Regions from separate parts of the Homo sapiens genome. Here region 1 is linked to region 2. The links come from fine-mapping of genetic effects on gene expression. A gene starts in region 2. The other region holds a variant in brackets. All regions are shown on one strand. Distances are from middle to middle. Region 1 has its middle 14 kb from the start of ITGAX. Region 2 holds the start of ITGAM (integrin subunit alpha M).

The links. PIP is the estimated chance that this variant, and not a neighbour inherited with it, causes the effect.
Region 1: its variant is the best candidate, but not a certain one, in a credible set for the expression of ITGAM in whole blood (INTERVAL, PIP 0.55).

What each region holds. Positions count from the first base shown.
Region 1 is chr16:31,340,030-31,342,954 of GRCh38, forward strand. No RefSeq gene overlaps it. Among named protein-coding and RNA genes, the nearest start is that of ITGAX, 14 kb to the right of the region's middle. The variant A/G (reference allele first, on the strand shown) is at 1,456.
Region 2 is chr16:31,258,473-31,261,397 of GRCh38, forward strand. It overlaps ITGAM (integrin subunit alpha M), which reads left to right and starts at 1,503. Exons shown (of 30, transcript NM_000632.4): 1 at 1,503-1,620. The coding sequence starts at 1,593. RefSeq lists an enhancer at 1,260-1,359.

The DNA of each region.
Region 1 (2,925 bases), 82 kb after region 2:
TTAAATGTAAATGGGCTCAATGCTCAATTAAAAGGCACAGACTGGCAAATTGGATAAAGAGTCAAGACCCATCAGTATGCTGTATTCAGGAAACCCATCTCAAGTGCAGAGACACACATAGGCTCAAAATAAAGGGATGGAGGAAGATCTACCAAGCAAATGGAAAACAAAAAAAGGCAGGGGTTGCAATCCTAGTCTCGGGTAAAACAGTCTTTAAACCAACAAAGATCAAAAGAGACAAAGAAGGCCATTACATAATGGTAAAGGGATCAATTCAACAAGAAGAACTAACTATCCTAAATATATATGCACCCAATACAGGAGCACCCAGATTCATAAAGCAAGTCCTTAGTGACCTACAAAGAGACTTAGACTCCCACACAATAATAATGGGAGACTTTAACACCCCACTGTCAACATTAGACAGATCAACGAGACAGAAAGTTAACAAGGATATCCAGGAATTGAACTCAGCTCTGCACCAAGCGGACCTAATAGACATCTACAAAACTCTCCACCCCAAATCAACAGAATATACATTCTTTTCAACACCACACCACACCTATTCCAAAACTGACCACATAGTTGGAAGTAAAGCACTCCTCAGCAAATGTAAAAGAACAGAAATTATAACAAACTGTCTCTCGGACCACAGTGCAATCAAACTAGAACTCAGGGTGAAGAAACTCACTCAAAACCGCTCAACTACATGGAAACTGAACAACCTGCTCCTGAAGGACTACTGGGTACATAACAAAATGAAGGCAGAAATAAAGATGTTCTTTGAAACCAATGAGAACAAAGACACAACATACCAAAATCTCTGGGACACATTCAAAGTAGTGTGTAGAGGGAAATTTATAGCACTAAATGCCCATAAGAGAAAGCAGGAAAGATCTAAAATTGACACCCTAACATGGCAATTAAAAGAACTAGAGAAGCAAGGGCAAACACATTCAAAAGCTAGCAGAAGGCAAGAAATAACTAAGATTAGAGCAGAACTGAAGGAAATAGAGACACAAAAAACCCTTCAAAAAATTAATGAATCCAGGAGCTGGTTTTTTTGAAAAGATCAACAAAATTGATAGAGCCCTAGCAAGACTAATAAAGAAGAAAAGAGAGAAGAATCAAATAGATGCAATACAAAAATGACAAAGGGGATATCACCACCAATCCCACAGAAATACAAACTACCATCAGAGAATACTATAAACACCTCTACGCAAATAAACTAGAAAATCTAGAAGAAGTGGATAAATTCCTCGACACATACACTCTCCCAAGACTAAACCAGGAAGAAGTTGAATCTCTGAATAGACCAATAACAGGCTCTGAAATTGAGGCGATAATTAATAGCTTACCAACCAAAAAAAGTCCAGGACCAGATGGATTCACAGCCGAATTCTACCAGAGGTACAAGGAGGAGATGGTACCATTCCTTCTGAAACTCTTCCA[A/G]TCAATAGAAAAAGAGGGAATCCTCCCTAACTCATTTTATCAGGCCAGCATCATCCTGAGACCAAAGCCTGGAAGAGACACAACAAAAAAAGAGAATTTTAGACCAATATCCTTGATGAACATTGATGCAAAAATCCTCAATAAAATACTGGCAAACCGAATCCAGCAACACATCAAAAAGCTTATCCACCATGATCAAGTGGGCTTCATCCCTGGGATGCAAGGCTGGTTCAACATACGAAAATCAATAAACGTAATCCAGCATATAAACAGAACCAAAGACAAAAACCACATGATTGTCTCAATAGATGCAGAAAAGGCCTTTGACAAAATTCAACAACCCTTCATGCTAAAAACTCTCCATAAATTAGGTACTGATAGGACATATCTCAAAATAATAAGAGCTATCTATGACAAACCCACAGCCAATATCATACTGAATGGACAAAAACTGGAAGCATTCCCTTTGAAAACTGGCACAAGACAGGAATGCCCTCTCTCACCACTCCTATTCAACATAGTGTTGGAAGTTCTGGCCAGGGCAATCAGGCAGCAGAAGGGAATAAAGGGCATTCGATTAGGAAAAGAGGAAGTCAAATTGTCCCTGTTTGCAGATGACATGATTGTATATCTAGAAAACCCCATCGTCTCAGCCCAAAATGTCCTTAAGCTGATAAGCAACTTCAGCAAAGTCTCAGCATACAAAATCAATGTGCAAAAATCACAAGCATTCTTATACACCAATAACAGACAAACAGAGAGCCAAATCATGAGTGAACTCCCATTTACAATTGCTTCAAAGAGAATAAAATACCTAGGAATCCAACTTACAAAGGATGTGAAGGACCTCTTGAAGGAGAACTACAAACCACTGCTCAATGAAATAAAAGAGGATACAAACAAATGGAAGAACATTCCATGCTCATGGGTAGGAAGAATCAATATCATGAAAATGGCCATACTGGCCAAGGTAATTTATAGATTCAATGCCATCCCCATCAAGCTACCAATGACTTTCTTCACAGAATTGGAAAAAACTACTTTAAAGTTCATATGGAACCAAAAAAGAGCCCACATTGCCAAGTCAATCCTAAGCCAAAAGAACAAAGCTAGAGGCATCACGCTACCCGACTTCAAACTATACCACCAGGCTACAGTAACCAAAACAGCATGGTACTGGTACCAAAACAGAAATATAGACCAATGGAACAGAACAGAGCCCTCAGAAGTAATGCCGCATATCTACAACTATCTGATCTTTGACAAACCTGACAAAAACAAGCAATGGGGAAAGGATTCCCTATTTAATAAATGGTGCTGGGAAAACTGGCTAGCCACATGTAGAAAGCTGAAACTGGATCCCTTCCTTACACCTTATACAAAAATTAATTCAAGATAGTTTAAAGACTTACATGTTAGTCCTAAAACCATAAAAACCCTAGAAGAAAACCTAGGCAATACCATTCAGGA
Region 2 (2,925 bases):
CTTTTTAGTAAAGATGAGGTTTCACCATGTTGGGCAGGCTGGTTTCAATTGCTGACCTCAAGTGAGCCACCCCGCCTCAGCCTCCCAAAATGCTAGGATTACAGGCATGAGCCACCGCACCCAGCCAAGTTTGTACATATATTTTTGACTACACTTCTTAACTATTCTTAGGATAAATTACTAGAAGTGAAAATTCTTGGGTGAAGAGCTTGAGGCCTTTACACACACACACACACACACACACAAAAATAGGCTGGATGCAGTGGCTCACACCTGTAATCTCAGCAGTTTGGGAGGCTGAGGAAGGAGGATCACTTGAGTCCAGGAGGTTGAGAATAGCCTGAACAACATAGCAAGATCTTGTCTCTACAAAAAATTTAAAAAAAATTAGCTGGCCATGGCAGCATGTGCCTGTAGTACCAGCTACTCGGAAGGCTGAGGTAGGAGGATCGCTTGAGCCCAGGAGGTTGATTGAAGCTGCAGTGAGCTGTGATTACACCACTGCACTCCAGCCTGGGCAACAGAGCTAGACTCTGTCTCTAAAAAAAGCACAAAATAATATTTAAAAAGCACCAGGTATGCCTGTACTTGAGTTGTCTTTGTTGATGGCTACAAATGAGGACAGCTCTGGCTGAAGGGCGCTTCCATTTCCATGGGCTGAAGGAGGGACATTTTGCAAAGTGTGTTTTCAGGAAGACACAGAGTTTTACCTCCTACACTTGTTTGATCTGTATTAATGTTTGCTTATTTATTTATTTAATTTTTTTTTTGAGACAGAGTCTCACTCTGTCACCTGGGCTGGAGTGCAGTGGCATTATTGAGGCTCATTGCAGTCTCAGACTCCTGAGCTCAAACAATCCTCCTGCCTCAGCCTCTGGAGTAGCTAGGACTACAGGCATGTGCCACCATGCCTGGCTAATTTTTTAAATGTATTTTTTTGTAGAGTCGGGGTCTCCCTATGTTGCCCAGGCTGGAGTGCAGTGGTGTGATCCTAGCTCACTGCAGCCTGGACCTCGGGCTCAAGTAATTCTCACACCTCAGCCTGTCCAGTAGCAGGGGCTACAGGCGCGCACCACCATGCCCAGCTAATTAAAAATATTTTTTTGTAGAGACAGGGTCTCTCTATGTTGCCCAGGCTGGTTTCAAACTCCCAGGCTCAAGCAATCCTCCTGCCTTGGCCTCCCAAAGTGCTGGCATTACAGGCGTGAGCCACTGCGCCTGGCCCGTATTAATGTTTAGAACACGAATTCCAGGAGGCAGGCTAAGTCTGTTCAGCTTGTTCATATGCTTGGGCCAACCCAAGAAACAAGTGGGTGACAAATGGCACCTTTTGGATAGTGGTATTGACTTTGAAAGTTTGGGTCAGGAAGCTGGGGAGGAAGGGTGGGCAGGCTGTGGGCAGTCCTGGGCGGAAGACCAGGCAGGGCTATGTGCTCACTGAGCCTCCGCCCTCTTCCTTTGAATCTCTGATAGACTTCTGCCTCCTACTTCTCCTTTTCTGCCCTTCTTTGCTTTGGTGGCTTCCTTGTGGTTCCTCAGTGGTGCCTGCAACCCCTGGTTCACCTCCTTCCAGGTTCTGGCTCCTTCCAGCCATGGCTCTCAGAGTCCTTCTGTTAACAGGTGCATGGGGGTGGGGTGGGGGACTCTGGGTGGGGAGGAGGGTAACTTTTGGGTCTGTCATAAATAGAGGGCCCAGAATATGTAGGAGTCAGTCTGGGGAGAGGCAAAGGGGATTTGGGGAAGGAGAAAGGGTTCAAGAAGAAGCAGGGAGAACAGCTAGACCCAGACAGGCTGGCCAGGGAAGCCTGGATGAATGACCACATTCATGGACTGTGCAAGGCTGCTTGCCGGTCCCCTTGCTTCACACATGAGGAGACGGAGGCCCAGGGAGGAGAAGTGACATGGCTCAGGGTGCGCAGCAGGTGTGAGACCCCTTTCCTGAGTGCTTCCTCCTGGATCCCCTCTCACCATCTCCACTTTGCCTCCGGTTCTATTTTCCAAGGTCCCGGGTGCAAATGTTTGTTGAATGACTGATGAATGAAAATGATTTGAGTTTGTTACCTTTTATGCTTATATGTTGTGGAAAATGAAATTCTCCTCAAAAGGGAAGGAAATACTTGAGAGCTGCATAGGAAGGAAATTATCTAATTAAGAATGTATAGAAACTTCACTGTTGGGCAAATCATCGTTGTGACACCGGGGGAAGAAGCCATTTAGGTGCTCAGAAGGGAGGCTGGAATTCAGAGCAGGACTGGACGTGCCCCACGACGGTGGTTCTTAGGTCAGGAGTCAGCAAACAGTGGCCTGGGGGCCCGATATGGCCCACGACCTGTTTTTGCACAACCTGCCAGCTAGAGATTGAAGATGAACACTGATAATCGATTTGATGATAGGGAGCACCACCCCCAAAGAATTCTATTTGTCTCATTTGTAAACCCGTATTACAAACAAATTGTACTCAATCATTATGTTTGAAATTTCCCTAATGACAAATTTGTGGAAAAGTATTTTCTGTCTTGTTATATAAGTACTTGTACAACATATTCTATCAGCCTCTTGGTCTGCAAAACCTAAAATTTACTATCTGGCTGTTTACAGAATAAGTGTGCTAATCCCCGCCCCAGGCTAACAGAGCTGGACCTGGGAGGCAGACATCTGGATGCTGGGTTAGTTAGGGTGACCGAATGGATGGGAAAGGGAATGGAGCAGGAAGACATGCTGCTATCTTTTTTTTTTTTTTTTTTTTTTGATACAGGGTCTTTCTCTGTTGCCCAGGCTGTAGTGCAGTGGCATGATCATGGTTCACTGCAGCCTTGACCTCCTGGGTTCAAGCAATCCTCCCACCTCAGCCTCCTGAGTACCACTACACCCGGCTAATTTTTTATTTTTTGTAGAGATGGGGTCTCACTGTGTTGCCTAGGCTGG